Homo sapiens: one gene and its partner. The protein of the gene in region 2 purifies or fractionates together with the protein of the main gene of each other region. This does not show direct contact. Each region holds a gene or a part of one and is shown on either strand. Other genes may lie near its edges. The genes, in order: DCAF6 and CTSO.

Region 1 (3,830 bases), on a different chromosome or scaffold from region 2:
GGCAACAGAGCAAGGCTACATCTTGGGGAAAAAAAAAAAAAAAGAAAGTGATAACTAGTAATAATTTGAAAAAGTTATTTCAAATATACCTTAATGTTAAAACAGGCTAGAAACAACAGCACAAAACAAAACAAGTTTGAGAAGCAAAAACAAATTTGAGACTTGTAGATGAGAATCCTCCTGACAATGAACCATAACCAGAAATTTCCATACATCTATTATATTTTTTGGCTTATTTCATGACTTCTGTATTTTTCATTAGGAACTCTACAAACTTTACATTTCTGATTGTTGCTATATGTTTCATGTTCAACTGTTTTAGAAACTGATGGTAAATAACAGATATATGCCTCTAGAGTTAAGTACAAGGTTGATTTTGTCAGCAAAACAGGTTTTCAGTAGGTGACTGATGTCATTGAGGTTCACTTTAAAGATCTACTCAAAAATATGTCCCAAATAGAGAAGTGCTTGAGGCTTATATATCATCTTGATATGTGACACTATTTCTAAACTATTTATAAGGAAACAACTTTCTTGCAAAAATCAGAAACCTATACACAGATTTAGATTCAAGTACATTTTTAGTTATTGAGCTCAAGGAAAAGGAGCATATACGAATAACAAAAAGTTGGTAATTGTTATCCCAATCAAATTTAAAAAACATAAATTGCATTCTTCAACAAAATATCCAAAAAGAGTAACTGATACTTAAAGTACATCATTTCAGATTATAGTTACTTTGCCATATGACATATTTGAAGTGAACATCAGTCTGCACACAGGAAATTTCTTTTCATTCTATCCCCATGCAGTGCATGCAGCTAAATATAGTTTGTGGAAAGCGACCTGCTTTACAATGCTTAGCACTTAGAATTCAGTAAGTCCAAAGGGAGTATTAACTGTTAATAGGAAAGGTGGTTAGCTGTGGCAAAAGAAGACCTGGCAAATCCATCATAAAAAAAAAATTATGAAGGAACATACTGAATTACCTCATTATTCTATCACCTATTGTTGTTCCTCTGATATTAAATCTAGTGAAGGGAACACAATAACTGAAATCACTTACAAAGACTTCAAAGAACCAAATATTTAAAGCATTAAGGACACCCTTTTTATCATCAATCATCTCAATTTAAAAAAAAACTTTTGTTTCCCTTTGTGACTTCGGGCATTAAGCAAGGAATATGTCAGTCAACTAAATGTATATGAAGAAATTAAGGAAACAGAAACACTCATTGAAGCTAGAATAGAAGGAAGACATTGCACTTAATCCCTTTTATCTTTTAAATAAATCAGAACCCAATCCTGTCACAGTATGGGAAACTGCACTGGCTTATAATGAATACCATCCTCTGGAACACGTACATGCTCCTCAAAGCTGAGGAGCTCTTTGGAAAATAAATAATTAAGCCCTAAGCTAATTCACTTGGCCTAACCACAAGACTATATAACAAATGAGCAAAGAATAACAGGGCTTTTAACTCCCTAGGAGTCCAGTTCTTTCTCTTTGAGTACATCTTTTCTCTCTGCAATTTTCTTTAATAAAGAGTAAACTGCAATAATGAGAAATAAGGAAATCATGGTTACAATGATGACTGAATAAATGCTGCCAAATTTACAGTACAAGGAATTTTGGCTTTAAAAGTGAGGGCTATGCTCCATGGTCCAGAGTAGGTATATGGAACCAAATTTCTATGAAAATAACACTTTAAAAGTTATTAAAGGGCAATATAGGATAAATCACTCTTTAGGGAAAAAATTGTTAGATCATCCTAACTGAGGCTATAATTAAAAACTATTCAAGACTATGTGAGGACTTATTCAGGAAGCTTTCTTAGATGCTTGTTTTTTTTTTTCAGAGAGTAATTTAGGTTTTCTCTTGAGTTTAGAAACAGTAAGAGCTACCAATCAGGCCGTCAAATCACTTACAACAGATTTGGCATTGTAAAAAAAAAAAAAAATTATACAGCCTGGGTGCGGTGGCTCATGCCGGTAATCCCAGCACTTTGGGAGGCTGAGGCAGGCGGATCACGAGGTCAGGAGATCGAGATCATCCTGGCTAACACGGTGAAACCCCGTATCTACTAAAAATACAAAAAATTAGCTGGGCGTGGTGGCAGGCGCCTGTAGTCCCAGCTACTTGGGAGGCTGAGGCAGGAGAATGGCGTGAACCTGGGAGGCAGAGCTTGCAGTGAGCCAAGATTGCCCCACTGCACTCCAGCCTGGGTGAGGGAGCGAGACTCCGTCTCCAAAAAAAAAAAAAAAAAAAAAAAAAATTATATGCAGATTATCTAAACAGAGATCTCAACCACACTCTTTTCATTCCAAGGGCATATATTTACGTTTCTTAACCCAGTATATGGCCAGGCGCGGTGGCTCACGCCTATAGTCCCCCAGCACTTTGGGAGGCTGAGGCTTGAGGCCAGGAGTTCAAGACCAGCCTGGTCAACATAGTGAGACTGTCTCTTCTAAAAAAAAAAAAAAAAAAAAACAACAACAACAACAACAACAAATTAGCAGAGTGCAGCAACATGCACCTGTAATCCCAGCTACTTGGGAGACTGAGGGAGGAAGATCGCTTGAGCCCAGGAGTATGAGGTTGCAGTGAGCTATGATCATACCACTGCACTCCAGCCTGGGCAACAGGGCAAGACCCTGTCTCAAAAAAATAAAACAAAATGAAATAAATACAGTATATAAAATCACTAAAAGATACACATACTATTTTTTTGCTTTGTTTTGCTTTTTTCCTAAGTCAGACTTATTTTTGACATTAGGACTAATTTTATTTTTTTAAACACCATGATTAGAGAACAAACATTTCTTTCTGTCTTTTTTCAATTTATTTCCCATTTACTGTTCCATGTTCTTGCCTTACGCAAAGTTAAAGGGAACCCAAATATGTGGAGATTCATATTATTTCATTGTTTCAAAGTCTGGATTTTTGCCAGTAGAGGCATTTTACCACAGACTATAGTTTGATTTCTCTCTATAACACTGATTACTATAGAGCAGGTATTTGCAAGCTATGGCTCTTGGGCTAGATCTCCGCCAAATGCCGATTTTTGAAATGAACCTTAGGCTAAGAATAGTTTTTACATTTTTAAATGTTAATATTTTAAATGGTCATATAAGTACCTACCATAATGGTCTCCATTTTGTCTCCTGGCCAACAAAGCCAAAATATTTACTATATGGCTCTTTAGGAGTAAGTCTGCTGCTCTGCTATAGACTCCCAGTTACATTTACATAGACTTGCTGTAGTTAATGAGAAGAGCATTCCATTTAAAAATATCTATGTTAGTTGTTAAGGTCTTCATTTTCTAAGACATTTCCTTCTCATGCTTGATCTCAGCCCAAAAGTGAAAACCTGGGTCATTTATTTAACCAAATTATAAGAATGTAAATATTTTTTTAAAAATCATTACTCTGTATTGCAAGGAACTGTTCTGATATTTTCAGTAAATTTGTCAGAAATGACTTAGCTATAAAGCCTTTTAAAGTTTCCTTTTAAAAATTAAATTTGGAACAAAAACTGATGAGGTCCACTATATAGTTCTTCATATAAAGTACAGATCAAATTAAGTATACACTTGTATAATATTTAATTTTAGGACCACTTCTCTACCCCAGCTAAACTAATATTGACTGGGCTTTGCAAATGGCAGCATGGAGGGAACTTTAAGACATACATCCTTTTAGGTGGGCATTTCATCCATGTGTGCAATGTATCCTTGGACTCTAGGAACCAAATGGTATGATTGTTACAACAGAGCTTCACAACCCTTAGTCTCTTGGGAAACAGAAACTCTCCAAAATCATAGGACTAA
Region 2 (3,454 bases):
CTTCGAAATCTCTTGCAGCTATGAAATACTATCTGCCTTATGCCATTGCTCATAAGAGTAATATGACATCATTGTAACTTTCAGGGAATACTCACTTTCAGGAAGAATTTGAATCCCTGTATGATTACCAACCAGGCATGCCCTTAAAGATTTACATTATGAAAGCAGGTAGAGAGCAGAAATTATCTCCACTCACCCTTAGTAGCTGAGGGATGGAGAAAGGTTGTGGTGAGGGACGTAGTTATAATTGAGGCAATTATGAACCAATATTTGAATTATGTTATTTTAACACTCCTGTAAGAGATTTGAAAGCAGTCACCCCTCAGCCCAAATCCAGGATCCACCACTGCTGCAGTCGGACATAATATATGTTCAGCAGCAAGGGTTAATGATTAGCATCAGTCATTTATCTGCAAGTTCCAAAGATGTACGAGTCCCCAGTGATGCTGAAAAGTGGAGGCCTGATGGGGTTGCTAGTATTCTGGCCAATATATTTCTGTGATGTTGACTTTTTTCAATGAATAACTTATAAAAACTGTCTCATCAGGGTGATAGAACAGATCACTCATGAACTCTCATGGATTCTGCCTTATGGAATGATTGGTTAATAGTCATTGAACATAAACTTTCAAATTTTTCTGTAACTATTTAATCAGTCTCATAATCTGAAAGATTCTGCATTTAAAAAAATTGTATATATGTTGGAACAAATTATAATAAGAAATGACATGATTGCTCTAATATGTAACTTAGTTTGGGTCTAGCTTGATTCAGAAAATATGTTGATTTCTAGACCAAAAGTTTTAGAATATAGGTTTGAATATAGTTTTATAACACGGTTAAAATTCTTAACTAGCTATTTTAGTTTGGTTGGTGGTTCATTTAAAAAGTTGTGTTTCAGGCTGGGCGTGGTGGCTCACGCCTGTAATCCCAGCACTTTGGGAGGCCAAGGAGGGCAGATCACGAGGTCAGGAGATTGAGACCATCCTGGCTAACACGGTGAAACCTCGTCTCTACTAAAAATACAAAAACAAAAAATCAGCCAGGTGTGGTGGCGGGAGTCTGTAGTCCCAGCTACTCAGGAGGCTGAGGCAGGAGAAGAGTGTGAACCCGGGAGGCGGAGCTTGCAGTGAGCCGAGATCATGCCACTGCACTCCAGCCTGGGAGACAGAGCGAGACTCTATCTCAAAAAAAAAAAAGTTGTCACTCAATAAAAAAGCATGTTTGGTATTTGCCTAAGCCTCTCAATTCTAGTGGGTGTTTTGCTAGAATTTTGTAGGTGGCAAGGGGCATATTAAATCACAAACAATACTAATGCTTAGTTTTCGTATATTTTAAAACAAAGAAAAACTCTTGATAATCATTGAGCAGATATTATAATACAGAAATTAAGAAAAATTTATAGTTATGAAATGTAAATTTGGAACAAGAAGACATTTCTGCAGGAGTCCAGTCTCCTAAGCTGTGTGTTTATCTCATTTTTAAAGCAATTAACCTTGGTAAATTATTACTTTATCTTATGTTTTGAGATATATATGTAATATATATTTTTTACTAAGGTCCCTCTTCCTTTTTCAAATACTAATATGTTTAACAGTTCCTCTTGCAAAACACTTTTTTTTTTATCATTTGGTTAAAGGACAAAAATTATTACTGCTAAAGTGGTTTGAGTAGATTGTAACTCTAAAATATTCAAATAATCTCCTTAATATTTATATTGAGGTTTTAAACACAAACTCATGACTTACCACAAACATTACTTCCCATTTTGACATGGGCATAACCATCTACTCCCCAAGAACTTCCCCAGGAATTCCGCACAATCCAATATGGAGTGCTTCCTACAGTGAAACATAAATAGTAACAAATCCTGAAAACTCAAATTTGTTATGAATGTTTAAGTTTCTTTATTTTAAGTTGGATTCTTGCTAAGGATAGTAGCTCTGAGAAGAAGATTAAAAATGTAATTTAATGGTAACTTAAACTACTTTATTTTAACTAAGTAAACCTGAGCAGTACTTACGGACACTCTCCAATCAGTAGAAATATATGTTTGAATTCACTTCCCTTTATACAGGGACTGCATAAAATGAAAACAAACACTAATTTCCAAGGAATCAGAAAAAGAAAAAAGAACTTTTAGATACGTATGATAAAATAATATGCACTTACCTTTTCCCAACAATTATTCTAAATGTTCCCGATACAGTTTTATATCAACAAAAATTATCATCATTTTAACAGGATATCCACTCAAAAATTGACAGGTGGAATCTGACAAGACATTTACATTGGGAACAGGCCCCCCAAATCCGGCCATAAACTGGTCCCAAAACTGGCCATAAGCAAAATCTCTGCAGCACTGTGACATGTTCGTGATGGCCATGACGCCCACGCTGGAAGGTTGTGGGTTTACCGGAATTAGGGCAAGGAACACCTGGCCGAACCCTGGGCAGAAAACTGCTTAAAGGCGTTCTTAAGCCACAAACAATAACATCAGCAATCTTGTGCCTTAAGGACATGCTCCTGCTGCAGACAACTAGTCAGACCTATCCCTTTATTTCGGCCCATCCCTTTATTTCCCATAAGGAATACTTTTAGTCAATCTATAATCTATAGAAACAATGCTTATCCCTGGCTTGCTGTCAATAAATATGTGGGTAAAGCTCTGTTCGGGGCTCTCAGCTCTGAAGGCTGTGAGACCCCTGATTTCCCACTCCACACTCTATATTTCTGTGTGTGTGTCTTTAATTCCTCTAGCGCCGCTGGGTTAGGGTCTCCACAACTGAGCTGGTCTCGGCACATTTACTCCTATAAGATTGTTGAGAAGTTGTGAAGGTCTTATGAGGACTTAATCATAGCAGAACCAAATTTCAATGTTCTACAGTATGGTGATCATTTTGCACTCAGTGTCCATGCTGGAAAGCAGTCAACTGAGTCTTATCAGCACTTACCTGTTTTATCAAACCCAGTTATGAGAACTGCATGATTTGCTTCTCCACTAGAGCAGTGATGCTGTATAATGCCTCCCAGATAATCTTGCCAGCTCACTGCATCTACTATGACTACCAAAGGGCCAAAGGTAAGAAGTGCTTTTGCCATTTCATCTTCTTGGTCACTACCAAAAGAGGAAATATTTGGTTAGAAAATTTAGTTTTTAAGGTAAAAATAACAATGATCTATATAATCTGTGTATGATTCTGAGTAGGTTTGGTTGCAGTTACAAAGGACCTAAACAATGGAAGCTAAGTCTGAGAGACTGGTAGTCTATGGCTGGGATAGGGTTTCAGGATATCAGGAACCCAAGCTCTTTCTCTATCATTGTCCTGCTATTCAAAGGTTTCCATTTTCAGGGTCCATTCATGGTCCAAGATGGTTGCTGGGACTCCAGCCATTTAACACATATTTAAGACAGCAGGAAGTAGAAAGCAGAAGTGATACATCTCTGTTGAGA

Evidence for each region.
Region 1: the proteins of CTSO (region 2) and DCAF6 purify together in Homo sapiens (affinity purification with mass spectrometry; one large-scale study listed by BioGRID and IntAct). This does not show direct contact.

What each region holds. Positions count from the first base shown.
Region 1 is NC_000001.11:168,048,093-168,051,922, reverse strand, and holds part of DCAF6 (DDB1- and CUL4-associated factor 6), read right to left. Parts: intron 1,032-3,830; coding exon 990-1,031; intron 1-989. UniProt on the Homo sapiens protein: Ligand-dependent coactivator of nuclear receptors. Enhance transcriptional activity of the nuclear receptors NR3C1 and AR. May function as a substrate receptor for CUL4-DDB1 E3 ubiquitin-protein ligase complex.
Region 2 is NC_000004.12:155,926,588-155,930,041, forward strand, and holds part of CTSO (cathepsin O preproprotein), read right to left. Parts: intron 3,119-3,454; coding exon 2,955-3,118; intron 1,842-2,954; coding exon 1,749-1,841; intron 1-1,748. UniProt on the Homo sapiens protein: Proteolytic enzyme possibly involved in normal cellular protein degradation and turnover.